7 linked regions of the Homo sapiens genome follow. The protein of the gene in region 3 purifies or fractionates together with the protein of the main gene of each other region. This does not show direct contact. Each region holds a gene or a part of one and is shown on either strand. Other genes may lie near its edges. The genes, in order: SCARA3, SCCPDH, EIF2B3, SSTR2, TMEM192, ABCF1 and NELFB.

Evidence for each region.
Region 1: the proteins of EIF2B3 (region 3) and SCARA3 purify together in Homo sapiens (co-immunoprecipitation; one large-scale study listed by IntAct). This does not show direct contact.
Region 2: the proteins of EIF2B3 (region 3) and SCCPDH purify together in Homo sapiens (co-immunoprecipitation; one large-scale study listed by IntAct). This does not show direct contact.
Region 4: the proteins of EIF2B3 (region 3) and SSTR2 purify together in Homo sapiens (co-immunoprecipitation; one large-scale study listed by IntAct). This does not show direct contact.
Region 5: the proteins of EIF2B3 (region 3) and TMEM192 purify together in Homo sapiens (co-immunoprecipitation; one large-scale study listed by IntAct). This does not show direct contact.
Region 6: the proteins of EIF2B3 (region 3) and ABCF1 fractionate together in Homo sapiens (co-fractionation; one large-scale study listed by BioGRID). This does not show direct contact.
Region 7: the proteins of EIF2B3 (region 3) and NELFB fractionate together in Homo sapiens (co-fractionation; one large-scale study listed by BioGRID). This does not show direct contact.

The regions. Positions count from the first base shown.
Region 1 is NC_000008.11:27,639,681-27,644,237, reverse strand, and holds part of SCARA3 (scavenger receptor class A member 3), read right to left. Parts: intron 1-4,557. UniProt on the Homo sapiens protein: Seems to protect cells by scavenging oxidative molecules or harmful products of oxidation.
Region 2 is NC_000001.11:246,730,600-246,734,497, reverse strand, and holds part of SCCPDH (saccharopine dehydrogenase-like oxidoreductase), read right to left. Parts: intron 1-3,898.
Region 3 is NC_000001.11:44,874,764-44,879,320, forward strand, and holds part of EIF2B3 (translation initiation factor eIF2B subunit gamma), read right to left. Parts: intron 933-4,557; coding exon 855-932; intron 64-854; coding exon 1-63. UniProt on the Homo sapiens protein: Acts as a component of the translation initiation factor 2B (eIF2B) complex, which catalyzes the exchange of GDP for GTP on the eukaryotic initiation factor 2 (eIF2) complex gamma subunit.
Region 4 is NC_000017.11:73,167,680-73,172,236, reverse strand, and holds part of SSTR2 (somatostatin receptor type 2), read right to left. Parts: intron 3,010-4,557; 5' UTR 2,918-3,009; coding exon 1,808-2,917; 3' UTR 1-1,807.
Region 5 is NC_000004.12:165,069,558-165,072,991, forward strand, and holds the end of TMEM192 (transmembrane protein 192), read right to left. Parts: 3' UTR 1,051-3,434; downstream 1-1,050.
Region 6 is NC_000006.12:30,577,635-30,582,191, forward strand, and holds part of ABCF1 (ATP-binding cassette sub-family F member 1), read left to right. Parts: intron 1-183; coding exon 184-279; intron 280-441; coding exon 442-568; intron 569-713; coding exon 714-751; intron 752-835; coding exon 836-943; intron 944-2,296; coding exon 2,297-2,371; intron 2,372-2,771; coding exon 2,772-2,885; intron 2,886-4,557. UniProt on the Homo sapiens protein: Isoform 2 is required for efficient Cap- and IRES-mediated mRNA translation initiation. Isoform 2 is not involved in the ribosome biogenesis.
Region 7 is NC_000009.12:137,268,342-137,272,898, forward strand, and holds part of NELFB (negative elongation factor B), read left to right. Parts: intron 1-3,739; coding exon 3,740-3,881; intron 3,882-4,165; coding exon 4,166-4,274; intron 4,275-4,440; coding exon 4,441-4,557. UniProt on the Homo sapiens protein: Essential component of the NELF complex, a complex that negatively regulates the elongation of transcription by RNA polymerase II.

The sequences.
Region 1 (4,557 bases), on a different chromosome or scaffold from region 3:
GAAGGCCAAGGCCAAGGCCAAGGCTGCAAACCCAGACCCATAAAATAGTGGTGACCACTAGAAATTTGAAAGGGCCTCTCTTCCTGTCATCCCTTAGGTCACAATATCCATCTCAAACTCCAGAAAGGACAGCCACAAGAGGAGAAATTCCTTTTTTTTTTTTAAGTCTGCTCTCACAGAGCCACGTAGCAAGTTTGATGGAGGGTGCATGCCTTGGCACATTGCTAAGCACGGCCACTGACTCCACTGGGGTTGAGCTTGGTTCAGCTCTCCCTTTGGGGGTAGAAAATAGCCCGGACCTGTTAACCAACTGCTAACTCAACTGTGGTCACCAATGCCGGCTTTCTTTTGGTTGACCAAAAATGTGTCCTTGGTTCCCTCTTTCGCCTTTCTGGGACTGCATTCTTCCATCTGAGTCAACAAGGGGGAGAGATTCGAGGAACTGAATAAAAGGTCTTTCTTTGGGCACTTCAAGGAACATATTTTGATAATTATCTTCTGCAGGGTTCACAGAGTGGGTTTTCAAAACAGCCAATTGGATCGGTAAAAATAAAGATTTCAGAGTCTTCTCTGGAGCCAATGCTATATTTAAAGTGCAGAATAGCTATTAGTTTAAGGTTGGAGAACGCTATAAGTAAGGTTGCAAAATTGTTTTCATTAGAGCCCTTCCGCCACTACCCCCTCTCCACAGGCTTCCTTTGTGGGTTTGTCTGTAATCGGTTGGGAATCCGCCTGCCCGCTCAGGTCTCAAGACACAGGTCCTTTCCCTTCAAATCTTCTTGCTCAACAAGTTGTCCTTTTCTGCTTCCGTGGCTCTGCCAGTTTCTCTCCTCCAGCACTCGCCCCTTTTTTGGTCCCCATCCTCAAGCTCCTGCATCCCTAAAGCCACATCTGCTGCTCTGAGACAGGCTTCCCTCCCGGTTCCTGCTACCTCCACCTGAATCCCTTTGGCTGCCTCCCACCCTGTTCTTGGTAACCACAGAGGTTGTGGGTAAATCCCTGCTTTATCCTAAATCCCCTTTATCCTAAACAACTTTCTTGCCCTCAACTTTTCTAACTTGGACCCTATTCCAGGTGGTGCAATTCTTCATTAGATGAGCACGGCCCACTCTGCACAGACATTCAGCATCCTGGCCTTGCCCGCTAAAGGCCAATAGCAATCCCTGGTCATTGTGACAACCCCGAATGCCCACCCATTTCTAAATACCTGCTCGCAGGCTGGTGCTGCCTCTAGTTGAGACAAGAACCTAGGCTACTCACTCAATGCAACAGACTCCCCCCATTACTTACACACTGATCTCCTCTCTGTCCACAGCACCAACCCCCCCGACTCCCCTGAACCCCATGAATTCAGAGGGATGGGAGGGGTGGGAATCACTGGCTTTCTTTTCTTTTCTTTTTTTGTTTCTTTTTATAGACAAGGTCTTGCTCTATTGGCCAGGCTGGAGTGCTGTGGTGCGATCATGGCTCAGTGCCGCCTAGACCTCCCGGGTTCAAACGATCCTCCCACCTCAGCCTCCTAAGTAGCTGAGGCTACAGGTGTGTGCCATCACACCCAGCTAATCTTGCTTATTTTTTGTAGAGACAAGATCTCACTATGTTGCCCAGGCTGGTCTCAAATTCCTGGCCTGAAGTGATCCTCCTCCCTGGGTCTCCCAAAGTGCTGGGATTACTGGCATGAGCCACCATGCCTGGCCAGGAATCACCAGTTCTCTTGATCCCCGTTGTCACCCCTGATCCTGCAAATCCTACCCTGTCTCGCATGGGCACCCCACTTCCCTCCTCTGAGTTTCATGTTCCTTATGCGTAAATGGTGGGGAGATCGTCCGCTTCAATGAGCTGCTGTGAAAATCCAATGAGACGTATATGAAAAGTACCTGGTACATCGTAAATGCTTAATAAATAGTAGTAGCAGCCACTTTTATTAGGATTATTTTTCTATCCTATTCCAATTAATGCTGCCATTTATTGCCATCTCCCAACCCCCATCACTCCCAGGACCAATTTCCAACTTACAAGAAATCAGTGTTTCAAAACATATCCTATGGGACACTAGTCCCAAATTATTCTTTGTGAAAAAGGATTATTTGATCAAGTAAGTGTGGAAAACATGGCATACTCTATCGCCATCTTAGAGATTCACATTCACATAGTAAGCATTTTGAAAAGTCCTGCCAAAAAAAATAATAAGCCCATTTAAATCTGTGTTTAACTCCACGTTTCTCAGACTTATTTGGTCATGGAACTTCCTGCAGATCTTGAAAAATAAATGTATCTTTTAATTCTGGGACCTATGTTCAGAGGCAGAGGGACTCTGACTTTAGGGAACACTGTTCTGGACAATGACATCACCTGGATTGGATGAATTCTTCATTCTGTCTCCTGCCATCAACTTGAATGGAAGCAGCTTTTCTGTTGAAACTCAGGGCTCTGGACATGGGATTTACTGTCTCATCTCTACACATCCTGCCTGCCCTCTGGAGCTTAAGGCTTATTGCTGTTCCATCTGCTTGATCTCAAGCCCCTTGCCTTCTTCATCCCCAATGCACTCAGCCTTTCCTCGCTCTCCTTCCTCCAAGTTCTCATTCGCCCTGACCTCCAAGCCCAGCCCAGTCCCCAAGGGTTGAGTTCTGCCCCATGGAGCCTGTAGTTCTCTCTCCTGGCCATGGTCCCTTCCATCCTCAGCCTGCTTTCTTCGAATTGCACTAGAGAAGCCTGGAGCTGCAGGAGAGTGTCAGAGGGGGGCATGCATTTGGCTTCAGCCAAGTCCTGCCATCTGGATCCTCACTTCCCATTCCTGGGTTCCTCCTCAGGTCAGCCCACCTCATTCCCCAAAGATGAGCTCACCCCCTCCTTTTCTGAAAGGATCAAGACCATGAGGTTCCAACTTCTTTCTTTATCATCCACTAACTCTGTCCAGATGCCTACACTTCAAACCCAGTCTGGGGGAGGGATGGGGAAAGAGGCCTTCTCGTGCATTCTGAGTAGCCTGGCACCCTCTGTCAATACTGCAAGGGCGAGTGCCCTTTGACTCAGTAATCCTCCTTCTAGGAACTTCATGTTAAGAGAATAATTACACAATTAGGCCAAGGTGTATGTGTAAAGGTGATCACTGCATGCTATGATAAATCTGAGGGAAAATGCAAATAGCTAAAATGCCCATCTCCAGGGGATTGGTTACATAAATGCTCGTAGAGTCTTACTATGGGATGTTATGAAACCATTTTTTAAAAATACTGCAAGCTGGGTGCAGTGGCTCACGCCTGTAATCCCAGCATTTTGGGAGGCTAAGGCAGGAGGATCACTTGAGCCCAAGAGTTTGAGATCAGCCTGGGGAACAGGGTGAAACCTCATCTCTACAAAAAATACAAAAATTAGCTGGGCATGGTGGCATGCATCTGTAGTCCCAGTTACTTGGGAGGCTGAGGTAGGACAATTGCTTGAGCCTAAGAGGTTGAGGCTGCAGTGAGCCATGATAGTGCCACTACCCTCCAGCTTGGGCAACAGAGCAAGACTCTGTCTCAAGCAAAGAAACAAACAAACAAAAACAAAAGCAACAACTAAAAACCAGCACTAAGAACAAAAACGCTAAGTAATCGGGAGGCTGAGGAGGGAGGATTGCTTGAGGTCGGGAGCTTGAGACCAGCCTGGGCAACATAGCGAGACTTCATCTCTACAAATAATACAAAAATTAGCTGGGCATGGTGGCACCTGCTTATAGTCCCAGCTACTTGGGAGGCTGGGAGGATCCTTGAGCCCAGGAGGTCAAGGCTGCAGTAACCTACAATGGTACCACTGCACTCCAGCCTGGGCACAGAGTGAGACTATGTCTCAAAGTAAAATAAAATAAAAATAAAAATAACATGGATAGTGTAATCTTATCTACATGAAAAAAATCTGTGCAAACATACACAGAATGATTTCTGAAGAATGTTCATCTACATTTTGTCATTTATTATCTCTACAGGGCAGGAGTTCACGTGAGTGAATGTTTTTCCTTTTTGGAATTTTTTGATTTTTAAAAAAATAATAAATGTGTTATAAAAAGGTTAAATGCAGCTGCTCGTAATGCAGAGTCTATGTCTGTAACCATCTTTTCTCCTTCCCTTGCCTCCCGATAAAGAGATTCTTTCTTCTCAAAGCAAGTCTCCCTCAATTCCACCGCTCTGTCCCCAAGTCCCCCCATGCCTCTTCTGTCCCTCCCCCTCCCAATGAGCACGGGCCATCCCTGCCTTGAAATCCTTTGAGCTGGGCCCTGCCTCCCACTCTAAGGACACAGCTCCTCCTGCGCCTTTGCTTCTGATCCACTCAGCCCCTCTGGCCCTTGCAACCTGGCCTTCTCTGATCCATGAATCCTGAGCTAACTCTGCTGATCAGCAGTCAACGCGGTGGGTCATTTCCTCCCCCTTGGAACTTTCTCCTCTCAATTTCCATGACATTACCATCATGGTTCTCTGCCTGTGTCCTGGACTGCTCCTCTTGGCTCCTTTACAAGCTCATTTTCTTCCTCCCACTCTCTAAAAGTAGAGGTTTCTCAACATGGGCTAAGGCCACGAG
Region 2 (3,898 bases), about 200 Mb from region 3:
TCTGAGGCAGTATGGTATCATGGAACAAAGGATTTCAAGGCAGTAAGACCCAAGTTCACACCTGGAATCCATCACCTACTAACTATATGAATTTACTTATAAATCACTTAAATTGCCTACCAAATGAATAAAACACACATTTTAAACATATTTAAATAGAACTAAAGTTGAGATTAAAACAGAAGTTGAAGCTCCATATGCTTTCTGCACCCAGTGGATTATCCTGGTTGATCCTTAGGGTTTGCACACATCCATTTTAAAACTCATTTGGAGCTTTCTCGGCCTTGTTCTTAAGTTATTTCACCCCCAAATTTCTCAAGTTGGCCATGAGTCCACCTGCTTTAGAATCACCTGGGTTGCATGCTGGTCACTCACTCCCACTCCAGACCCCCAGAATCAGGCTTTCTGAGGTAGACTCCAGTAACTTGCATTGTAAATAAGCCTCACAGGTGATTCTTGTGTACTTCAAAGATGGAGAATCACTGCCCCAGACATTCTCCCAGGAAATCTCACCTACTCTCCCAACTTCAATAAAATCTGTGCTGTGACCTCCAACCTCTATGTCTAGAGTTGCTCACTGATAGGATTTCCCTCTGTTTTTTGTTAGAAAGGTCAGGACCAGTGAGAGCACAGGACATGTAGCATGAGTCACACATAAAACTAATTTCACTTTGCCTACATTTTCCTTTTATTTTCTCTTCCCCCTGATTTTCTCACTTACTTATAAAACATCATATACAAACAGTATATTATTTGTATTTTCTGTCTTGATGCAAGGTATCTAGCAGACACCTCAATTTCAACAAGTCTAAAACCGAATTCATCATCTCTCTCTCTAAACCTATTTCTCCTCCTCCACTTCCTAGCACGTGCTTCAATGTGTAGCCTCTAGGCCAGGTGTGGTGGCTCAAACCTGTAATCTCAGCACTTTGGGAGGCTGAGGCAGAAGGATCGCTTTGAGACCCCATTTCTCTAAGAAAAAAAGTGTGTGTGTGTGTGTGTGTGTATAAAATATGATGCTACGGACTATATATAGAGGCCATATACTTATTATATATATATATTATACATATAAGGACTATATATATATGGCATATATATATAAACACATGGCCAGGCACAGTGGCTCACGTCTGTAATCCCAACACTTTGGGAGGCCAAGGTGAGTGAATCACTTGAGCTCAAGAGCTAGAGACCAGCCTGGGCAACAGGGCAAAACCCTGTCTCTACAAAAAATACAAAAATTAGCCAGATGTGATAGCACCAGTCTATAGTCCCAGCTACTTTCAGGGCTGAGGCTGGAAGATCCCTTGAGCCCAGGAGGTTGAGGCAGCAGTGAGCTGTGTTCGTGCCACTCTACTCCAGCCTGGGCAACAAAGTGAGACCCCCATCTCAAAAAAATAAAAATAAAAAACAAAGTATAGCCTCTAGTTCAGCCTGCCTGGGTCCCACTTCTAACATCTTTCTGTTGTGCTCAAAAGAGGGAAGACTCTGAGACAAAACTGAGCAAATGGCTGAACAGCAGAGTGGTCTAGAGTGTGGGCTTTAAGTCAGGCCACACTTACATCCAGGCTCTGCAGCCACTAGCTGTGTGACCCTGGGCAAGTCACTTTACCTCTCTAAGCATCAACCTCTTCAATCAAAGAATGGTGATGAATAACAACACTCACTTCCCTGGGTAGTTGTGAGGATGAAATAAGAGAATACAAAGAGCTTAGTGTGGGGCCAGGCACATGGTACTCAGATGGCTTCTTTTTTTTATTTAATGGCATTACTCCCCACATAATTCTCAGGTTAAAACCTGGAAGCAGGCTGGGTGTGGTGGCTCATGCCTGTAATCCCAGCACTTTGGGAGGCCGAGGCAGGTGGATCACCTGAGGTCAGGAGTTCAAGACTAGCCTGACCAATTTGGTAAAACCCTGTCTCGACTAAAAATATAAAAATTAGCTAGGTGTGGCGGCATGAGCCTGTAGTTCCAGCTACTCAGGAGGCTGAGACAGGAGAATTGCTTGAACCCGGGAGGTGGAGGTTGCAGTGAGCCTAGATCGCACCACTGCATTTCCGCCTGGGTGACAGAGCAAGAACCGCCTCAAAAAAAAAAAAATCTGGAAGCAGTCTTTCATGCTACCTATCCTGGAAGTCACCAAGTTTTATCAATTCAGTTTCCTAAAATTATCTCAAATCAGTCTCCTCTCCCCTGCACAATTATATCTTAGTTCAGACCCTGTCAACACTCATCTAATTTACTATAAATAGGCCCTAACTGGTTATACTGCAGCCAGCTAGCCCCATCTCCAAATACATAACAAATTGTTATTCTAAAATAAAAATGTGATGTCACCTTTCCTCCTGCCTCACTCCTATAACATATCCACTCTTCAAATCTGATAGACTGGATTAAGAAAACGTGGCACATATACACCATGGAATACTATACAGGCATAAAAAAGGATGAGTTCATGTCCTTTGCAGGGACATGGATGAAGCTGGAAACCATCATTCTGAGCAAACTATCACAAGGACAGAAAACCAAATACCGCATGATCTCACTCACAGGTGGGAACTGAACAATGAGAACACTTGGACACAGGGTGGGGAACATCATACACTGGGGCCTGTCGTGGGGTGGGGGGCAGGGGTAGGGATAGCATTGAGAGAAATACCTAATGTAAATGACGGGTTGATGGGTGCAGCAGGCCAGCATGGCACATGTATACCTATGTAACGAGCCTGCATGTTGTGCACATGTACCCTAGAACTTAAATAAAAATAACAAAAACAAAAAAATCCCTACAGTATATAGTACAAAGTCCAAATTTCTTAGCATGTCACAGAAAGTCCTTAGTATCATATCATACCACAGCCCCTTAATTCTCATGTTCCAGCAGTTCTAAATTCCATGTAATTCCCCAAGCATGCTGCTTCTTCACACCCAGTGTGCTTGCTTCCACTACCTGGAGCACCCTCCCTTCATTCTGCTGGGCCAACTCCCAGCTCCTCCAGGCTCTGCCTTACAGCCACAGGCTCACTTCTCATGTCTGGCTAGTGAGCCCATCAGCTAGGCAGTGTATCTATGAGTACTGGCAGGCTGCAGTGAAGTATTAATGAGCTTATTAAAATAATCGTAGCTCCTTCTGGAAAGAAAACGCATTTTCCTATTTGCCAGTCTGCCCATTCCTTACTTTTACTGCATTTTGTCACATCTGGCCCACTTCTTTGAGTAATCTGGAGTTGAGACTTCTCACTAACTTATTCCTATTTTATGAACTTGCTAGATTTTTCTCCACTTAGTACCCTGTGCTTGTCTGAGACAGGTGAACAGTCAGAGTAGCAATCCTTCATCTCGGGGAGACACTTCTCCCCTGTGAGGCCAATTGGCTCAAAGGTCAGAACCGCAATCCTGCTCTCCATGTCTCATCTTCTTCTTTTTTCTTTTTGAGCTGGAGTTTCATTCTTGCTGCCCAGGCTTGAATACAATGGCGCAATCTCAGCTCACTGTAACCTCCGCCTCCCGGATTCAAGTGATTCTCTTGCGTCAGCCTCCCGAGTAGCTGCAATTACAAGTGTGTACCACCATGCCCAGCTAATTTTTTGTATTTTTAGTAGAGACAGGGTTTCACCATGTTGGCCAGGCTGGTCTCAAACTCCCGACCTCAAGTGATCTGCCCACCTCAGCCTCCCAGAGGTTTGGGATTCCAGGCATGACCCACCGCGCCTGGCCCTCAAAGTTCCATCTTCTAACCCAGTGGTCTCCCAAGTAGTCTTCCCCTAAGGGAAGCGCAGAATGATCCACTGAGGGTGGAAGTAAATATCAGAACTTTTATCCATGTTAATGTTTACAAAAACATGACGTTCCGTTAACGGTTACTATATGGACTGACTACGAGACATTCCCTGG
Region 3 (4,557 bases):
GCGCTTAATGGATGACTTCTCTCCAATCTGTGTCTCTGGCCCAATGAGGCTGTCAACTCCAACCTGTAAAAGGCAAAATATAAAACTCTGTCCACCCATCTCAACCAACTGCAAACCACCCTCCAGATCCCTCAAGCTGGGATCTAATGGGATCTTTCCATAGAGACACTTCAGCAAGAGGGACCATGATCAGTATTTCTCAGGGCCACAAGGTCATACAACACCTCTGAGACCAACTCAAACCTATTTGAAGCATGGGCCCTCCTCTCTTGCCAAGAAAACAAAATAAAACAACAGACACATATACACACTCATGCACTTGTGTATACAGATGTGCTCTCTTAAAGAGTGTGCTCAAATCAGAGTTAGAAGGGGGACAGATTGTGCCACTGCACTCCAGCCTGGGCAACAGAGTGAGACTCTGTCTCAAAAAAAAAGAAAAAGAAAATTGGGACTGACTCCTGAAGAAAACTTGGCTCAGGAATCTGTAGGACCCATACCAGATAAAACCTCAGGTGAGCCTCTACCTGGATTGGTTACAGATCCAAGGGAGTCCCAAGCCAGAGAGCTTATGAGAATCATAGGTAGTCCCACATTTACCCATGACTAGAGTCTTTCAGGCTGAGATTGAGAGCTCCTGTGTCTGAGTCCCAACACTATAATGGACCCTTCCTTACAAGGTCATTACTTGCCCAGGCAGTCTTGTTGAGTGAGATTTTATTCTCAGAACCCACTGTGATTTCCCTGGGGCTGATGAGGTTCAGGACTTAAAGGCCTCAATCCGGCTTCTCAAAAACAAGTCTCGATGCTCCCAAAGAACATCTCATGCCCGTCCTGGCCACACTAGCACTTACCAGGTGTTTGCTGACAATCTGGGCTGACGAATGGACTGGTGGTTCTTCTGGACAGAGAGCAGACAGCAATTTGGGCACCTTAAGGACAGAGATTTGGTCACTAAAGATCAGAAAACACCTTAGGTAGCTCTCCCTCTCCCTCTCCCTCTACCTCTCCCACTCCCCCTCCCCACGGTCTCCCTCTCCCTCTCTTTCCACGGTCTCCCTCTGATGCCGAGCCAAAGCTGGACTGTACTGCTGCCATCTCGGCTCACTGCAACCTCCCTGCCTGATTCTCCTGCCTCAGCCTGCCGACTGCCTGCAATTGCAGGCGCGCGCCGCCACGCCTGACTGGTTTTCGTATTTTTTTGGTGGAGACGGGTTTCGCTGTGTTGGCCGGGCTGGTCTCCAGCTCCTAACCGCGAGTGATCCGCCAGCCTCGGCCTCCCGAGGTGCCGGGATTGCAGACGGAGTCTGGTTCACTCAGTGCTCAATGGTGCCCAGGCTGGAGTGCAGTGGCGTGATCTCGGCTAGCTACAACCACCTCCCAGCCGCCTGCCTTGGCCTCCCAAAGAGCTGAGATTGCAGCCTCTGCCCGGCCGCCACACCGTCTGGGAAGTGAGGAGCGTCTCTGCCTGGCCGCCATCCCATCTAGGAGGTGAGGAGCACCTCTTCCCCGCTGCCATCCCATCTAGGAAGTGAGGAGCGTCTCTGCCCGGCCGCCCATAGTCTGGGATGTGGGGAGCGCCTCTGCCCCGCCGCCCCGTCTGGGATGTGAGGAGCGCCTCTGCCTGGCCGCGACCCTGTCTGGGAGGTGAGGAGCGTCTCTGCCCGGCCGCCCCGTCTGAGAAGTGAGGAGACCCTCTGCCTGGCAGCCGCCCCGTCTGAGAAGTGAGGAGCCCCTCCGTCCGGCAGCCACCCCGTCTGGGAAGTGAGGAGCGTCTCCGCCCGGCAGCCACCCCGTCCGGGAGGGAGGTGGGGGTCAGCCCCCCACCCGGCCAGCCGCCCCATCCGGGAGGTGAGGGGCGCTTCTGCCTGGCCGCCCCTACTGGGAAGTGAGGAGCCCCTCTGCCCGGCCACGACCCCCTCTGGGAGGTGTACCCAACAGCTCATTGAGAACGGGCCATGATGACAATGGCGGTTTTGTGGAATAGAAAGGCGGGAAAGGTGGGGAAAAGATTGAGAAATCGGATGGTTGCTGTGTCTGTGTAGAGAGAAGTAGACATGGGAGACTTTTCATTTTGTTCTGTACTAAGAAAAATTCTTCTGCCTTGGGATCCTGTTGATCTGCGACCTTACCCCCAACCCTGTGCTCTCTGAAACATGTGCTGTGTCCACTCAGGGTTAAATGGATTAAGGGCGGTGCAAGATGTGCTTTGTTAAACAGATGCTTGAAGGCAGCATGCTCGTTAAGAGTCATCACCACTCCCTGATCTTAAGTACCCAGGGACACAAACGCTGCGGAAGGCCACAGGGTCCTCTGCCTAGGAAAACCAGAGACCTTTGTTCACTTGTTTATCTGCTGACATTCCCTCCACTATTGTCCTATGACCCTGCCAAATCCCCCTCTGCGAGAAACACCCAAGAATGATCAATAAAAAAAAAAAAAAAAAAAAAAAAAAAAAACACCTTAGGTAGAACCCAGTGCTCAATCAGAGATACAGGGAGTTCTCAGCCATAGCTTCCTGTCTGAGTGAGGGGGAGCAGGAGGCTGCTGCATTCCCCCTAGGACCAAGATTATTTATGCAGCAGCTTCTAGATGGCCTTATTGTCAGTCTCTTAGCTTTGAATGCTCCTCCTTGAAAGTAATGCCATGTCCCTTGGCTGGGAGGCACTGAGACCAGTCTTTGAGATACCCACATACCACCTCTTGGGAAAGGAGGCCTGATCAGGTCAAGGAACACCCCGCATCCTGATCATAAGCATCCTGGGTTCCTGGTCACCTCCTGGACCACTGTGACCACGCATGAGGTGAGGATGAGATCCATTTTAGACAAATTCGAAATCAAGGACAGACCCTGAGAAGGCATCTATCCCCCAGCCAAAAGAAAACATGAAGGGGAAGTTCACACTATTCCCTCTCCAGTGTGAGAAACCTGGAAAGGTTAGAGGTATGGGGGGCTTTGGCTACCAGTCTATTAGGAAGGCACAGGTAGTGCGCCTGTCTATGATTCTCCAGCATAGACAGAATGCTGGTCAGAGCACTGTGCGTGGCAGCCACACTAGCTGACGGAGGCCTTGTCAGCACGGCTACACTGGAATGTGAAGGCTAATTCCAAGCCCCCAGCCCTAGGTTCTCTTCTTCCACACTCCACCCAAGGCCCTTCAGGCCCGTCTGCTGCATAGTCCCTGTTGGCACTTCAAAGGATACTTTTCCCAGCATGCTCACTCGAGAGCAGGGTCCCTCTTTCATGATGTGGACACAGCGGTGCACCTGTGATCTGGACAAGTCTTCCCACTCAGGTTATCCATGAACATCTTTCCAGACCAGCGTGAAAGATGCTAGTCATGGGTAAATGTGGGACTAGCTATGATTTCTCATAAGCTCTCTGGCTTGGGACTCCCTTGGATCTGTAACCAATACAGGTTGAGGCTCACCTGAGGTTTTATCTGGTGTGGGTCCTACAGATTCCTGAGCCAGGTTTTCTTCAGGAGTCAATCCCAATTTTCTTTTTCTTTTTTTTGAGACAGAGTCTCACTCTGTTGCCCAGGCTGGAGTGCAGTGGCACAATCTCAGCTTACTGCAACCTCCACCTATCAGGTTCAAGCAATTCTCCTGCCTCAGCCTCCTGAGAAGCTGGGATTACAGGTGCATGCCACCATGCTTGGCTAATTTTTGTATTTTTAGTAGAGACAGGGTTTCACCATGTTGGCCAGCCTGGTCTCGAACTCCTGACCTCAGGCGATCCACCCGTCTCAGCCTCCCAAAGTGCTGGGATTACAGGCGTGAGCCACTGTGCCCGGCCTCAATCCCAATTTTCAACAATTTCTTTTATATTATTCTGCGCTCCACTGCCACCCTGGTCTACACCTGCAATTATATTTTCACAGGGTTCTACCAGGAGCAATGTCAATAACTAATCTTTTCATTATCTCACCTCTGTTATCCTTGAATGCCACCCCAATGTAGTTCCCTCAATTATTTATCTTTTCCTATCCTCTTTTTTTTTTTTTAATACAGAGTCTCACTCTGTTGCTTAGGCTTAGGCTGGAGTGCGGTGGTGCAATCTCAGCTCACTGCAACCTCTGCATTCCAGGCTCAGGTGATCCTCCCACCTCAGCCTTCCAAGTAACTGGGACTACAGCCACATGCCACCATACCTGGCTAATTTTTGTAGTATTTTTGTAGAGACAGGATTTTGCCATGTTGCCCAGGCTGGTCTCGAACTCCTGGACTCAAGCGATCCACCTGCCTCGGCCTCCCAAATTGCTAGGATTATAGGCGTAAGACACCGTGCCCGGACTCTTTTCTTATTCTCATCTAAACCCTTTACTGCTCTGCATTTCCTTTTCCTAGTCTTATTATTCCTCCCTCCCAAAACCTTCCTCCTGGGCCTACTATACAATACAGAGTTCCTTTATACCTTCAGCCTCTTTACTGTCCCCCTCTCCACCCCCTGCCTTCATTAAGGCCTGGCTTATCTTTGAGGACACTGCTTCTCCTTCAGTGGAAGCTATTTGTTCCCCATATCTCACAAACTTCAAGGTTAAAAGGAGGGGCTAG
Region 4 (4,557 bases), on a different chromosome or scaffold from region 3:
AATGTCAGTTTGGGGAACGAAAAAAATGCCACTTTATGGTGTGAAGTGCCTGTCTACAATAGTCCTTGCAGAGCGGCTCAGTGAGTCCATGGCATTAAAGATATGACAGTTACTATGTATACAGTCAGTGAGGAAGGCAGCACAGCAGTATCTCCGAGAGGTGGGGCCCCACCAACACTCACACCACACCCCCTGCACGCTGCATATTCATTGGCAGGTGAGGGTGCTTTTGTTTTGTGAACAATGTCTTCTGGTCTTTAGTACGCATTGTGGTTTTCCTTTTTTTTTTTTTTTTTTTTTTTTTTTTTTTTTTTTGAGACTGAGTTTTGCTCTTGTTGCTCAGGCTAGAGTGCAGTGGCACAATCTCAGCTTACTGCAACCTCCACCTCCCAAGTTCAAGTGATTCTCCTGCCTCAGCCTCCCGAGCAGCTAGGATTACAGGCACGTGACACCACGCCCGACTAATTTACATATTTTTAGTAGTGATGGGGTTTCACCATGTTGGCCAGGCTGGTCTCGAACTCCTGACCTCGGGTGATCCACCCACCTCGGCCTCCCAAAGTGCTGGGATTACAGGTGTAAGCCACCACGCCCGGCCATGCATTGTGGTTTTCTTAATGCCCAGCTTTGTATGAAGTCCTCTAAAGTCCCCTTTGAGGAGTCGTCGAATTACATTTCCATTTTCTTTCATTAGGAAGCTATGTCTGGCCTGAAAAATAAAAACAATTTTATGGTTTCTCATAAAGGTGTAATTTTGCTTCACTCTTATTCACTTATTTTCACGATGGAGAGAATGAAATTGTTTCCCCACAGGAATCATAGTCCATTTTTTGCCTTTCATGTTAGTGATTTTTCCCCCTCATAGCTCCCTAAGAAAAACTAAAGCAATTTGAAAAGAAAAAAATGCAATCTTATAACAAAGTTGGCTTTGTCTTGATAAATACAATGATGGATGACCACAACCACTTAAGTCCTTTTGGGCAAATGAATAATTCTCTGACTATATCTGAGAAGTGGAAACACATGAATTTACATTCTGGTTCTTCAAATATCTTCTCCCTTTCCCTTCTTACATTGACCTCACTTGCCTGAAATTAATGAAGCAAATCCCCAAGGGCAGAGGCTAGAAGGTTTGTGAGGCTTGAAGCTTATACGAGGTTCCTCTTTAAGAAAAACAATACAAACATATCTTACTTTCACAATTTTTTACAAAAACATATGACCACATGAACATACTGCCCAAGTCCCTCCTGGGCCTTGGCAAGGCCCGTGCAAGAGAGATCCCTGAAGCTTGAACTTTATTGGCTTCACGGTAAGTCCATTTCTGCGGGCAGTGTGTTGTGGCAAATGTCCATCTACACTATGCATACTCGAATTTGCTACTTGTGTATGTAAACACAGGAACGTAGGTAATGCCTATACAGAGAATAAATAGGAATATACAAGTATACATATAAAAACACAAGATTACATATTGAGTTTTCAATACACAAACACACAGATACTTATTTTTTTCTATTTTTGTTGTTTCTAAAGATCATATCCAGGCATGATCCCTCTTCTCCAGACTTTGAATTGTCTACCTGCATTTCAGTGTTCGCTTTAAGGGGGAGGTAATCAATTTAGCACATTATCATTCAATCAGACAAGCTGACTCAAACACCGTTCTCTGAATTGGACTCATGCTGAGCAATCCTCTATTCTAGAAGCCAGGTGTGAGGGGTGGGAGGCAGGAAGCCAGTGTGGGTAGGGAGCCCATTGCCAGTAGACAGAGCATGGCTTGGTTCTTTCCCACCCCCCAAGCAGTTCAGATACTGGTTTGGAGGTCTCCATTGAGGAGGGTCCTCTGGGTCTCCGTGGTCTCATTCAGCCGGGATTTGTCCTGCTTACTGTCACTCCGCTCCCCATCATCTGTGCCGCTCACCTTGACCAAGCAGAGGACATTCTGGAAGCTCTTCTTGAAGTTGTCAGACAAGAAGGCATATAGGATAGGGTTGGCACAGCTGTTAGCATAGGTGAGGACCACCACAAAGTCAAACATGCCTTTAAGGGCTGGGGTGGGGCTGATGGCCATGGAGACGGAAGAAACGTTGAATATGTAGAAGGGAAGCCAGCAGAAGATGAAGACAGCCACCACGATGGACACCATTCGGGTGACCTTCTTCTCAGACTTCTTCCTCTTAGAGGAGCCCACTCGGATTCCAGAGGACTTCACCTTGATGATAATGAACAGGTAGCAAAGACAGATGATGGTGAGGGGTACCAGGAACCCCAGAATGAAAGTGTAGATGATGAACCCTGTGTACCAAGCCCCAGATTCACCTGGCCAGTTGATGGTGCAGCTGCTTCTCCCCCACTGGTTGCTCCGGAGCCCAGCATATATCATGATGGGCAAGATGACCAGCAGAGAGACTCCCCACACAGCCATGGTGATCATCTTGGCCGTCCGGGGTCTCCTCCACTTGGCCGACTTGATGGGGTGGACCACAGCCAGGTATCGGTCGATGCTCATGACTGTCAGGCAGAAGATGCTGGTGAACTGATTGATGCCATCCACAGTCATGACCACCCGGCAAATGGCCTTGCCAAAGGGCCAGTGGACCAGAGCCACCTGCATAGCCAAGAAAGGCAGACCCAGCATGAAGAGCTCATCTGCGATGGCCAGGTTGAGGATGTAAATGTTGGTGATGGTCTTCATCTTGGCATAGCGGAGGATGACATAAATGACAAGTGTGTTGCCACACAACCCAATGATGCAGACCACAAAATAGATGAATGTGAGGACTGCATTGCTTGTCAGGTCATAGTACGGCTCTGTCTGGTTTGAGGTGTTGGTTGACACCACAGAGCCATTGAGGTCAAATGGAATGGATAGCCATGTGTGGCTTCCATTGAGTGGCTCATCCGCCATGTCCATGGCTGCTTTTCAGTCTTAGGCTAGTTCCAGCCAGCCCAGAGATCTTATTCTCACCTTAATGGACCCTGGAGGCCAAGGATCCAGTGTGACATCTGGAAGGAAAAGAGGAAGATTGGCCCGTCGGTCACAGGCTGTTTAAAGTCTCACCAAATTTACACATTTCTGGTTTAGCCTCTCAGACATACTCTTAAATTGAAAAATGTATTATCTTTCCACATCAACATTAAGCTCTAGAGTTCCTCATCAGTGTGCAGACTTTTTGAGTTGTTTTTCCAATAGTAGGGAAGGGTTTGGGTTCAGCCATCATCTGCTGACGCACATGTCGGGGAGGGCTGTGGCTTCAAAAAGCACATACTTTGACCCCTAAGAAGTTGACTGATCTAAACTGCAGAAAGGCAGAGCTTGGAGAAGTTCAGCGCCTGACCTCAGAAGGGTCTGACACTGACATTCCTGGCCTCTTCCCTACCAGGAAATCTATGCTGACTTGCTGACTGCCTTGGAGTCTTTCCATTCTGAAAATGCCATAGTGGAAAAAACCCAGACTCTAGAGGCAGAACAAACCGGGTTCCACTGCTGAGCCCGTGTGACCACATGCCTGGTCCTTAATGGTTCTGACTCTTATTTCTTCACATGGGGGCGTCATGAAGGTTAAATGATGGAATATATGTGAAAATGCCTAGCCTTGCGTTGGGCTCATAATGGGAACCTCGTAAGTTGTTTCCCCCCATGTTTTCCTCTACCATCTCATTATCTCTGATTTATTGAAATCTACCTACGTGGTGAAACAATTTATAGTCTTCAGTATTAAAAATAAAAGTCTGGTTTGCTTTCATTTTTGAAATGTAGGCTTCAGTTTATTTTTTGTTTTTCTTCTATTTTTGTTTTCCAATACCTAATGCTTGACTTCCTCAAGAGCTCTTTCCCAAAGTCCCTAAGGGGATGCTGCTCCCAAGTGCTGTAACACTCCAGAGAATTTGCCTGCCATTTTCTAATTACGGACAAAAACGGGAAGCAGGTGTGGGACACAAGCTCTTTCACAGAAGTAAGCAGAAGGCTTCCAGTACTGATATAATTCATTCACACTCACGAGTCCCTTGATCTCCCCAACTGTCCTAGGTGGTAGGGATAATTACCCCCATTTTAGAGATGTGGAAACTGAGGCTTAAGAGAGTTTAAGGAGCTCACCCCATTCTCTTGCACATAATTGGTGGAGCTGGGATGTGAACACAGGCCACCTGGCCCCAAGTCTTTTGCACGTCTCAAGGCATCCCCTCTGCTCCTCAGTGGCCTAGAGACCGAACGGCTGATAACTGGGCTTTGGTTTGAAGCAACTGACTCCTGTGTTACTTCCTTGCTGAGAAAATAATTGGAGCACTATTGGCTTGGCTTAAGATCTAAAACAATAGTTCATCCCATAATTAAATGATTGATATACAGCCATTCAAAAAATATCACGGGGGTTGGGGGCCTGGAGAGGAGGCTTCTTTGTGCTGACAGCAGGGATGTAGAAATGAACAAACTTGGCCAGTGCCCTCTAGGAGGTGATAATTTAAAAGGGGAGATAGGAAAGGAAGCCAGCTCATATAGGGTGGGCATTGCACGAGAGATAAATGAAGGACTTAAGAATGCCTTCCTTTCCT
Region 5 (3,434 bases), on a different chromosome or scaffold from region 3:
CGCCATTCTCCTGCCTCAGCCTCCCGAGTTGCTGGGACTACAGGCGCCCGCCACCATGCGCAGCTAATGTTTTGTATTTTTAGTAGAGGCGGGGTTTCACCATGTTAGCCAGGATGGTCTCGATCATCTGAGCTCGCGATCCACCCACCTCGTCCTCCCAAAGTGCTGGGATTCCAGGCGTGAGCCACCGCGCCCGGCCATGGCCATGTGTTTTCTAATAGGTTATTTTTATCTTATTCATTTAAATTACAAATGTGGGCTGGGTGTGGTGGCTCACGCCTGTAATCTCAGCACTTTAACAGGAGTTCCAGACCAGCCTGGCCAACCTGGTGAAACCCCGTCTCTACTAAAAATACAAAAATTAGCTGGGCGTGGTGGCAGGCACCTGTAATCCCAGCCACTAGGGAGGCTAAGGCAGGAGAATCGCTTGAACCTGGGAGGCAGAGATTACAGTAAGCAGAGTTTGCGCCACCGTACTCCAGCCTGGGCGACAGAGTGAGACTCCGTCTCAAAAAAAAAAAATTTTTTTTTTCAACAGAGAGAGGGTCTTTTCAACAGGAGGCTGGTCTCCAACTCCTAGGCTCAAGAGATTCTCCAGCAGTGGCCTCCCAAATTGCTGGGATTACAGACGTGAGCCACCATGCCCCGCCCCAATTTGAAATTTCTATCTGAACATCTAGTTCCTATATAATAACAGAAATGTCTTAAATATTTATTAATATGGGACTGGATTAGTAGGAGCAGAGCTCTAAAAGGTTAACAAATATTCCTGAATATATGTTTATATGCAATCGGCAATGGTACCTTTCCAATTGTATTTTAAACTGGTTCTTTTTGGTATGTAAGAAAATTGTTATCTTCATGTTTTACAGTCTGCCACCCTTGCTTTCTAATGGTTTTTCTTAAATTCTCTAGATGTCTAATGGTTAATTCTTAAATTTTCTAGATATTAATATATAACCATCCCATGCACAAATTAATCCTGCTCCTTTATCCAACTGTATTGATGGGCACTTTTGGACAATAGTAAATAGCAGTGATTATAAAAACTAGCAGTCTTATCTCTTTTATTTCTGATATGTTGTTATTTTTTAGTGTATCCTAGACATAAACTTTTAAACAAGACCTTAAAAAAATAATCTCTCAGTTCAGGACATCATAAACAGAAAGTGAAAACAGAGCCCAGGTTACAGCTGGATTACAGGAACAGGCTTTGAGCATGTGTGAGCATAGTTTTTCTACTACAATTCCAGTAGTGAAATCACTGAAGTTAGTGACATTAATTCATCAACGTATATTGAGTGCCTACTTTGTGCCAGACACTGTTCTATGTATGAAGGACACAGTAGTAAGCAAAAGATAGAGCTTACATTCTATCAGGAGACACAGACAAAGTAAACAAGTAAGTTACATGCAGTATTTTCCCCTTATCTACAGGGGAAACATTACAAGACCTCAGGTGATGCCTGGAGCCACAGGTCTGCAGGGGAATCATTGCAAGACCTCAGGTGATGCCTGGAGCCACAGATAGTACTAAACCCTACGAACACTATATTTTTTCCTATCCACACATAACTACAATAAAGTTAAATTTATAAATTAGGCACAGAGAGTAACAACATTAATAACAAAATAGAATAATTATAGCAATATACTATAATAAAAGTTACGTGTGGTGGTGTGGTGCACATCTATAATCCCAGCTACTCAGGAGGCTGACTGAAGTGGGAGGATTTTTTTTTTTTGGGGGGGGGACGGATTCTCACTCTTGTCACCCAGGCTGGAGTACAGCTGTGCGATCTTGGCTCACTGCAACCTCCACCTCCCAGGTTCAAGTGATTCTCCTGCCTCAGCCTCCTGAATAGCTGGGATTACAGACACGTGCCACCACGCCTGGCTAATTTTTGTATTTTCAGTAGAGACAGGGTTTCATCGTGTTGGCCAGGCCGGTCTCCCAACTCCTGACCTCAAGTGATCCACCCACCTCAGCCTCCCAAAGTGCTGGGATTACAGGGGTTAGCCACCACACCTGGCCACAAGTGACATTTGAACAAAGACTTGAAAAAGATATATGGGAGTTGATCCTTCCAGGCAGAGGGAACAGCAACCGCAAAGGTCCTCAGGTAAGAATGTGCTTAGCAATCCAAAAGCCACAGTGTGACCGACGCAGGGTACACAAAGGAAGAGTAGGAGAGAGGAGGTGGGGTGGGGTGGGAAGTGGAGATTTTCTAGGTCCCTGAAGGCCACTGTCCAGGCTTTGGCTTTTACTGAATGAAAAAGGGAACCATCAGAGTAGTGTTTTAGAAGGATATTGTTGGCTGCTTTTTGTGTGTGTGCATGGGGCTGGGGGGTCAGGGTGGAGAGGTAGTGAGAAGCAGAAAGATCACTTAAAAGACTCTTATAGGCCAGGTGTGGTGGCTCATGCCTGTAATCCCAGTACTTTGGGAGGCCAAGGAGGGAGGATCATGAGGTCAGGAGTTCCAGACCAGCCTAGTCAGCATGGTGAAACCTCGTCTCTACTAAAAATAAAAAAAGCACACCTATAATCCCAGCTACTCAGGAGGCTGAGGAAGGAGAATTGCTTGAACCTGGGCAGCGGAGGTTGTAGTGAGCCGAGACTGCGCCACTGCACTCCAGCCTGTGCGACACGAGTGAGACTCCATCTCAAGAAAAAAGAAAGAAAGAAAAAGAAAAAGAAAAACACTATTATAATAGGGCCAGGCACAGTGACTCATGCCTGTAATTGCAGCACTTTGGGAGGCCAAGGCGGGTGGATGACCTGAGGTCCGGAGTTCAAGACCAGCCTGGCTAACATGGTGAAACCCCCTTTCTACTAAAAATATAAAAAAATTAGCTGGGTGTGGTGGTATGTGCCGGTAATCCCAGCTACTCAGGAGGCTGAAGCAAGAGAATCACTTGAACCTGGGAGGCGGAGGTTGCAGTGAGCCCAGATCGCGCCACTGCACTCCAGCCTGGGCAACAGAGCGAGACTCCCTCCCCCAAAAAAAAAAAACAAAACCAAAAAACCGAAAGACTATTATAATAGTCCAGGTGAAGATTATAGTGGCTGGGGAAGTAGCATTGGGGGTGCCAAGAATTGGTTGGACTCTGGGTATGTTTTAAAGGAAAAGCCAGCAGGATTTGCTGATTAACTGTCTATAGGGTTTGAGAGAAAGAGGAGCTGCCATTACAGGGGTGGAAGAGACTGTGGCAGATAGCTCAGCTGGGGACATGTTCTGTTTGAGGTGTTTTTTTATATACCCAAGTAGTGATCTAGAAGGGGCAGTTGGACACATAAGTCTGGAGTTCAGGGAGGAAGGCCTGGCTGAAGATTCACATTTGGAAATTATCAGCTCATAAATTCTATCAAAGTCATGAGATTGTGTGAGACCACCAAGAGAGTGAACGCTGATGGAGAAGCCAAGAGGCCCAGG
Region 6 (4,557 bases), on a different chromosome or scaffold from region 3:
GATAGCTTAAGCCCAGGAATTTGAGACCTGCACACTCCATTCTCCACAAAAAGAAAAAAAAGAGAGAGACAGGAGGTAAGGTGAGGGTGGAGTGGAGGGCCAGTGGGCCAATGTGTGGCAGAGCACAGCCTGCTTGGATTGCTCTTGGAAACATGTTTACCTGTAGCTTAACTCCCTTTATAGTTCTTTGAAGAGCTGGCAGTAGAAGATAAACAGGCTGGGGAAGAAGAGAAAGTGCTCAAGGAGAAGGAGCAGCAGCAGCAGCAACAGCAACAGCAGGTACAAGTGCCACAGGGCCCACCAATCCTGGGAGGCATCTGGGTTCCACCAACCCCTTTCCAGCCCATGTTGCTCCATTCAGCTGATGGGGAACCCTCTGTGAGGCAGAAATACAGCAGGGGCCTGGGCTTCATTTTCTCACTGTTCTTTTGCTCTCAGCAGCAAAAAAAAAAGCGAGATACCCGAAAAGGCAGGCGGAAGAAGGATGTGGATGATGATGGAGAAGAGAAAGAGCTCATGGAGCGTCTTAAGAAGCTCTCAGTGCCAACCAGTGATGAGGAGGATGAAGGTAAATGACCTGAGGGGGAATGGGTACCTGGAATCCATGAGTCATGGAGAGTGATACCTCATACCCTGATCTTCAAGTTGGATTCAATTGGGGGGCCAGACATTGTAATTCTTTCCTATCTCATGTTCTCCCCCTGTCATTTCAGTACCCGCCCCAAAACCCCGCGGAGGGAAGAAAACCAAGGTAAGCCATCTGTGTGGTAAACGGAGACTCCAAGGATGCAACCTTGACCATCCTACTGACTTCTGTGGCCCTTTCATTCTCTAGGGTGGTAATGTTTTTGCAGCCCTGATTCAGGATCAGAGTGAGGAAGAGGAGGAGGAAGAAAAACATCCTCCTAAGCCTGCCAAGCCGGAGAAGAATCGGATCAATAAGGTGACAGTGGTGGCTCGATCAGTCACTCTCACTCCATTTAGCACCTTCTGGCCATGGTGGAGTAATTTCCCGCTTTTAAACTAGCTCTTCTCGGTCTGTCTTACTTATACTGTTAAAATCATCTTTTTAGAATACATGCCCAGGCTGGGCACAGTGGGTCACGCCTGTAATCCCAGCACTTTGGGAGGCCGAGGTGGGCGAATCACGAGGTCAAGAGATCGAGACCAGCCTGACCAACATGGCGAAACCTCATCTCTACTAAAAATACAAAAATTAGCCAGGCGTGGTGGCGTGCGCCTGTAATCCCAGCTACTTGGAAGGCTGAGGCAGGAGAATCACTTGAACTTGGGAGGTGGAATTTGCAGTGAGCTGAGATTGAGGCACTGCACTCCAGCCTGGGCAACAGAGCAAGACTCAGTCTCAAAAAAAAAACAACAAAAAAAACCATGCCATTTTTATCACTCAGAAATCTACAGTGATTCTGTTGCTTTAAGCACAGAACCTGAAACAAAGCCCCAGGTCCTTGCTCTTCTACTTGTGACTCTTCTGCGTGTGCATCTTAGTCCATGTCCATTTGAGCTCTTGAGAAAGCCTCCAGTGCTAGTGCCACTCACTCTGGTGGCGCACTTGCCTGACTTATAATCCTTAGCCTTGCTGACGTTCCCTAGTTATCTCTTCGCTATCTAGTCTGAAGCTGGAGGGTAGGGTTTTTCTGGGTCTCATTTTTCGTCAGCAGCACTCAATACAGATGGTCTCCAACTTCTGCTTCGGTGTACGATTTTTCTACTTTATGATGGTGTGAAAGTCATACTCATTTAGGGTACTCCTCAACTCATGATGGGATTATATCCAGATAAACCCATCATAAGTTGGAACTATTTTTTTTTTTTTTTTTTTTTGAGACGGAGTCTCACTCTGTTGCCAGGCTGGAGTGCAGTGGCGTAATCCTGGCTCACTGCAACCTCCGCCTCCCGGGTTCAAGTGATTCTCCTGCCTCAGCTTCCTGAGTAGCTGAGATTACAGGCACGTGCCACCACGCCCAGCTAATTTTTGTGTTTTTAGTAGAGACAGGGTTTCACCATGTTGACCAGGATGGTCTCGATCTCTTGACCTTGTGATCCACCTGCCTTGGCCTCCCAAAGTGCTGGGATTACAGGTGTGAGCCACCACGCCCGGCCAAGAACTATCATTTTTTATTTAAGTTTCTGGTGGGTTTATCGGGATGCAACCTGTCGTAAATGGAGGAGCATGTGTATGGTTAACACAGTAGACTCTCTAGAAATGCTTATTACACAGCAAAGTAGCACAATAATTTGTATGTATGTGTGTAATGTGTATGTGTGTCTCCTCCAGGCCGTATCTGAGGAACAGCAGCCTGCACTCAAGGGCAAAAAGGGAAAGGAAGAGAAGTCAAAAGGGAAGGCTAAGGTGAGAGAGTAACTAGCAGGAGGAGGTATTGGGGCCCAGGAATTAAAACATTTCATCAGGGCTGGGCGCGGTGGCTCACGCCTGTAATCCCAGCACTTTGGGAGGCCGAGGTGGGCGGATCACGAGGTCAGGAGATCGAGACCATCCTGGTAACACGGTAAAACCCCGTCTCTACTAAAAATACAAAAAAAATTAGCCGGGCGTGGTGGCGGGCGCCTGTAGTCCCAGCTACTCGGGAGGCTGAGGCAGGAGAATGGCGTGAACCCGGGAGGTGGAGCTTGCAGTGAGCCGAGATTGCGCCACTGCACTCCAGCCTGGGTGACAGAGCGAGACTCCGTCTCAAAAAAAAAAAAAGAAAAAAAAAAAAAACATTTCATCAGACCTGTCTTTTCCCTATTAGCCTCAAAATAAATTCGCTGCTCTGGACAATGAAGAGGAGGATAAAGAAGAAGAAATTATAAAGGAAAAGGAGCCTCCCAAACAAGGGAAGGAGAAGGCCAAGAAGGCAGAGCAGGTGTGTATTTGGTGTTGGGGCAAGGTGGAATGAGGGACTAGGGCTTCCAGGGTCCTTATGGGAGAGTTAGAATCTGGGGATATAGTTATTATCCCAGCAAACCTTTATTCTTTTCTTTTTTTGGGGGAGTAGTTGGGGTGGTGGTTCGTTTGTTTTTGTTTTTGTTTTTGTTTACACAGGATCTTACTCTGTCACTCAGGCTGGAGTGCAGTGGTGTGAACACGGCTCACTGAAGCCTCAACCTCCTGGGCTCAACAGATTCTCCTGCCTCAGCCTACTGAGTAGCTGGGACTACAAGTGTGCACCACTACCCCTGGCTAATTTTTTTATTTTTAGTATAGAGATGAGGTCTCACTATGTTGCTCAGGCTGGTCTTGAATTTCTGGGCTCAAGCAGTCCTCCTGCCTCAGCCTCCCAAAATGCTGGGTTTACAGGTGTGAGCCAGCATGCCAGCCAGCAAACTTTTTCTATAAAGGGCCATATAGTAAATGTTTTTGGCTTTGCAGGCCACATACAATCTCTATCACATATTCTTTTTTTTTTTTAACAACTCTTTGAAAATACAAAAATTATTTTTATAAAGTTCAGGAGCTATATAAAAATAAATGTCAGGTCAGCCTTGGCCCATGGGCTGTAGTTTGCAACACCTAATCCAGTGAAGAAAGGGCCTGGAATTTATCTCAGATGATCTGGGTCCTGGCTCTGCCTTCACTGGCTGTGTGACCTTGAATACATCTTCCCATCCCCTTGGGTCTCACTTGTCTCCTTTGTGTGATAGAAGGAGGAGTCCGGAGATCTCTAGGGTCCCTATGCGTCTGGCACTTCCTAATTCTGTGATTCTGCTGGATTCCTCTGACTGTGCACTAGAGCTTCCTGATCTTTTTTTTTTTTTTTTTTTTTTTGAGATGGAGTCTCACTCCGTTGCCCAGGCTGGAGTGCGGTGGCGCAATCTCAGCTCACTGCAACCTCTGCCTCCCGGGTTCAAGCAATTCTTCTGCCTCAGTCTCCCGAGTAGCTGGGACTACAGGCACGTGCCACCATGACCGGCTGATTTTTTGTGTTTTTAGTAGAGACAGGATTTCACCATGTTAGCCAGGATGGTCTTGATCTCCTGACCTTGTGATCTGTCCATCTTGGCCTCCCAAAGTGCTGGGATTACAGACATGAGCCACCGTGCCCGGACGGCTACCTGATCTTTTCTTTGCATGTTAACAAGGAAACCACAGAAACTCATTTTATACAAATGAAACTCTTGAAATCCATTTACTCCACCTTCAGTTACATTGTATTGGGAGTTACATTTATAGGGACATAACGCGTTGTCACATTTCATAAATACACATTCATACCATTTGTCTTGTACCATTCCTGGTAGCAGAAATTAATAAAGGACCTCAGGGAGACCAGGGGCTGGGTATGAGAATGAGAGAGGATCCCAAGATATTTTAGGACTCTGAGTAGTGAAGGAAAGAGCTGGGGCAGGGACAGGGGGCAGATGATGTGAAATCTGAGTTCTAGAAGGAGTCCCTAGTTTTTTTTTGTTGTTTTTTTTTTTGAGACGGAGTCTTGCTTTGTCACCCAGGCTGGAGTGCAGTGGCACGATCTCGGCTCACTGCAAGCTCCTCCTCCCAGGTTCACACCATTCTCCTGCCTCAGCCTCCCGAGTAGCTGG
Region 7 (4,557 bases), on a different chromosome or scaffold from region 3:
TTGGGAGGCTGAGGCGGGCGGATCACGAGGTCAGGAGTTCGAGACCAGTCTGGCCAACATGGTGAAACCCTGTCTCTACTAAAAAAATACAAAAATTGGTTGGGCATGGTGGTGGGTGCCTGTAATCTCAGCTACTTGGGAGGCTGAAGCAGGAGAATCCCTTGAACCTGGGAGGTGGAGGTTGCAGTGAGTGGAGATTGCACTATTGCACTCCAGCCCAGGCGACAGAGCGAGACTCCGTCTCAAAAAAACAAAGAGCAGGGACTTCTCCCAGTTCTGCGGGCTGGGATGGGAAGTCCGAGGTCAAGGGGCCTGCATCTGGCTGGGGCTTTTTGCTGTGTCATCCCATGGTGGAAGGCAGAGGGCAAGAGAGCACGGGCAGGGGAGACAGACAGACACAGACAGAGATGAGAGACAGAGACACACAGACCAAGATGAGAGACAAAGATGAGAGACACAGAGACAGAGATGAGACACAGAGAGATGAGAGACAGGTAAGAGAGACAGAGACAGGAGAGACATGGAGACAGACAGATGAGAGACACAGGACAGAGACAGATGAGAGACAGAGCTAGAGATGAGACACAGACAGACGGAGACAGAGAAGGGGCCACACTTACCCTTTTATCAGGAGCCACTCCTGTGCTAACAGCGAGAACGCTTTGGTGAGGACGGAGCCCTCACGACCTCAGCAGTGTTGCGTTGGGGATCAGGTTTCCGATGGTGAACTTGGGGACACGTCCACACCACAGCACGTGCCTATTGTGTTTCTCGGTGGCTGGTGTGTTTGAGGATGGCGCGTGCATGCGTTTTCCAGCTTTCTTTGTGGAGGAAGTTACCTGTGGGTATTAACCTGTCCCCAGCCATCCTCTCACTGAGCTTGGGTTGCCTGGGCCTGGGTTTCCTGTTGTTGCTGGAACGAATGACCACAGACAGTGGCATTAGACAGCGCAGGCAGACATGACCTCCTGGGCTTCTGCGGGTGCCAACACTGCCGCTCCTTCTGGAGGCTCAGGGAGGCTCTTGAGGGCATTGGGACATCGTGCTGCCGGCCGCCGGGCAGAGCCGGTTTGTTTATTTTTTGAGACTTCCGGGAACATAGTTATAAATAACTTTAATTTGCCTTGGCCTGCCCACTGCAGTACAGTCACGTGTCACATAACATTCTGTCTACCGTGGACCACATATACGACCACGCGGTCACATAAGCTGACAATACTGTATTTTTACTCCACTTTCTCTATTTAGATACACAGTTGCCATTGTGTCCCAGCAGCCTTCAGTACTCAGTACAGCCATGTGCTGTGCAGGTGTCTAGCTCAGGGGCATGAGGCCATGGCCCAGCCCAGTGTGCAGTGGGTGGCACCTTCTGGATTTGTGTCAGTCACTGTGGAGTTCGCACAATGACAGACTCACCTGGGAGGCCTTCCGTGCGCTTCTGTTTCTTTCTCTCATTTGATTGTGGCTAGAAACAGGCTGGGAACCAGGAGTGCAGCTTCTCGGAGTACGTGGCTGCCCCACGGGGTGGGATGTGCATTTTCAGTCACATTTGGGGAGAGCACGCGTGTTCTTAAGTTTTTAGCGGGTTCTAGTAAGAATGGATGTTGATTTTTAGAATTCTCTCCTGTTTATTTTTTAACATTTTGTGGTGGGAATTTGTGAAAGAATACGAAGTCAAGAGCATGGTACGGTGAGGACCCAGCACCATCTCCAACCTCCCCGGGGTCCACGTGGGGTCTGCGTGTGGCCGCCTGTCCCTCAGCACGATGTCTGGGTGTAAATCTGAGACATCACAGCATGCAGGCTGCAGACGTAGGCATCTCTACAAAAGAAGGATGCGTTTACAGGAGAATCGCTTGAACCTGGGAGGCAGAGGTTGCAGTGAATCGAGATCACGGCACTGCCCTCCAGCCTGGGCGACAAAGCCAGACTCCGTCTCAAAAAAAAAAAAAAAAAAAAGGGCGGGGAGCCGGGCTTGGTGGCTCATGCCTGTAATCCTAGCACTTTGGGAGGCCAAGGCGGGTGGATCACCTGAGGTCAGGAGTTCCAGACCAGCCTGGCCAACATGGTGGAATCCCATCTCTATTAAAAATACAGAAATTAGCCGCGTGTGTGACGCATGCCTGTAGTCCCAGCTACTCGGGAGGGTGAGGCAGGAGAATCGCTTGAACCCAGGAGGCAGAGGTTGCAGTGAGCCGAGATTGCACCACTGCACTCCAGCCTGGGTGACAGAGCGAGACTCCGTCTCAAAAAAAACAAATAAAAAATAAGACTGTCTTTAAATGCCTTTAAAAAACTGGCCAGGCATGGTGGCTCACCTTGTAATCCCAGCGCTTTGGGAGGCCGAGGCGGGCGGATCACCTGAGGTCAGGAGTTCCAGACCAGCCTGGCCAATGTGGCGAAACCCCATCTCTACTAAAAATAGAAAAATTAGCCCGGCGCGGTGGCGCACGCGTGTAATCCCAGCTGAGGGAGGCTGAGGCAGAAGGATCGCTTGAACCCGGGAGGTGGAGGTTGCAGTGAGCTGAGATTGCACCGCTGCACTCCAGCCTGGCTAACAGAGTGAGACTCTTCTCAAAAAAAATAAAAACCAGTGACCACGGACCACGGGCCACTGTCACATCTGAGCCAGGTTCACTGCCGCTCCTCTGCCGACTGACTGCCTGACAGTGGCTGCGCTTCTCCAGGTGTCTCCTGCCTGCTGTGTGGACGGTCCCGTCAGGGTTGGGATGCGCCTGCTGTCCCCTCTCCTGTCTCGCAGTCTTGGGTTCCCCGGAGTTGCAGGAATCAGGGCATTTGCCCAGTGGGGCCTTGCTGCTGGATCCCCTGGTCGGGACTGTGTGCCTGCCACGTGTCCCGTGGCCACCTGGCCATGTGGCCGGCCAAGGCCCTGTGAGATGTGGCAGGCAGGCACCTCGGGGGCCTGGGTCTCCTGGAAATGTTTCTGTCACTCTGGGCGCAGGTGGCGCCAGCTGGGTTGTCCTCATAAAGGCCCCATCCGGGATACTAGGAAGGCCATCCTCAACCTGTCCGCACACGTCACCTCCATGTGGCCTGGCCACAGCTCCTTCAGGCATCAGTCTGCAGGCGGCCGCCCTCCCTCCCTGCAGGGGCCCCGTTTGGGGCGTTGTGCTGGCTCTTGGCAAATGTCTGCCAACACCGTGGCTTCTGTGCTGTGGTCGCACGTGAGGCGTCTGTGGGCACGAATGCTGTCTTTGTTGTGTTTTGGTGTCTGGCTTCAGAAAAGAATGTGGAAGAGTTTCGTTCTCTTTCCTGTGGTTCAGTGTAGCTGGCAGTCAGGGAGAACTCTCTGCAGCTGGCGCCGGCCCTGTATTTGTTAGGCTTGTTTCTCCTGGGCTCGGCTGCTGGGCAAGGCCTTTTGGGACTGGAGGAGCACCTCGTTTTTCTGTCTCCTTCTTCCTCCACCCTCCTCCTGTCCCCGGGCTGTCTCCCCCTCCCTCCACCCTCCTCCTGTCCCTGGGCTGTCTCCCCCTCCCTCCACCCTCCTGTCCCTGGGCTGCAGCTCTGCTTCCCTGCCACAGGTCCCACCCCCTGCCTGCCTCTGTCCACTTCCCACCCCCCTCTTCACCTGCTGAGACCCTGTGCTTCTCATCTCAGAACAACTGAGAACTCTCATGTGAGCACCCCCAGAAGTAGGTTCTGAGGTCTTTGAGGACAAGGGTGCCCTCTGGGGTGGGCAGGGTGAGTGGCACTGGGCTGATGCCTGCTGTGTCTGCAGTGGAGACCTTTGGCGACTTGGCCTTTGGCGACATCTTCCTCCACCTGCTCACGGGCAACCTTGCGCTGCTGGCCGACGAATTTGCCCTTGAGGACTTCTGCAGCAGCCTCTTCGATGGCTTCTTCCTCACCGCCTCTCCAAGGTAGGCCTGCTGGGTACCATCCGGCCCGCTCTGTCCTCTCAGCTCTTGTCCGTAGCAGCCTGAGAGGTGGCTGCTGTCCCCAGCCTGGGGCGGAGGGTCCGCAGGTGGGTCTGTTGGGCACCAGGGCTCGCATGTGGCCCTGCAGGGTGCCTGGGCACAGCTGGGGAGGGTCCCAAAGGCTGGCCATGTCCTGTCTCCAGGGGCCTTGGCCACCTGCATCTGGGCTGGGCCTGGGCAGACAGCAGGGCCTGCCTCCTGCCCCAGCCCTGCACGGCCTTTTCCAGGAAGGAGAACGTGCACCGGCACGCGCTGCGGCTCCTCATTCACCTGCACCCCAGGGTGGCCCCGTCTAAGCTGGAGGCGTTGCAGAAGGCCCTGGAGCCTACAGGCCAGGTGGGTGCCCGGGGGGGCTGCATCTGAAGGCACCTGGTCCCTACCAGCCCGTGTGTGCTTGCCAAGCTGCCCTTGTGGTGCTTGTGTGTGGTCGGTGGGCACCCACCCCTGTGCCCCCTGGGCCTGCCCATGCGCCTCGCCTGCCCCATGGTGTGGTTCCCCGCAGAGCGGAGAGGCAGTGAAGGAGCTTTACTCCCAGCTCGGCGAGAAGCTGGAACAGCTGGATCACCGGAAGCCCAGCCCGGCACAGGCTGCGGAGACGCCGGCCCTGGAGCTGCCCCTC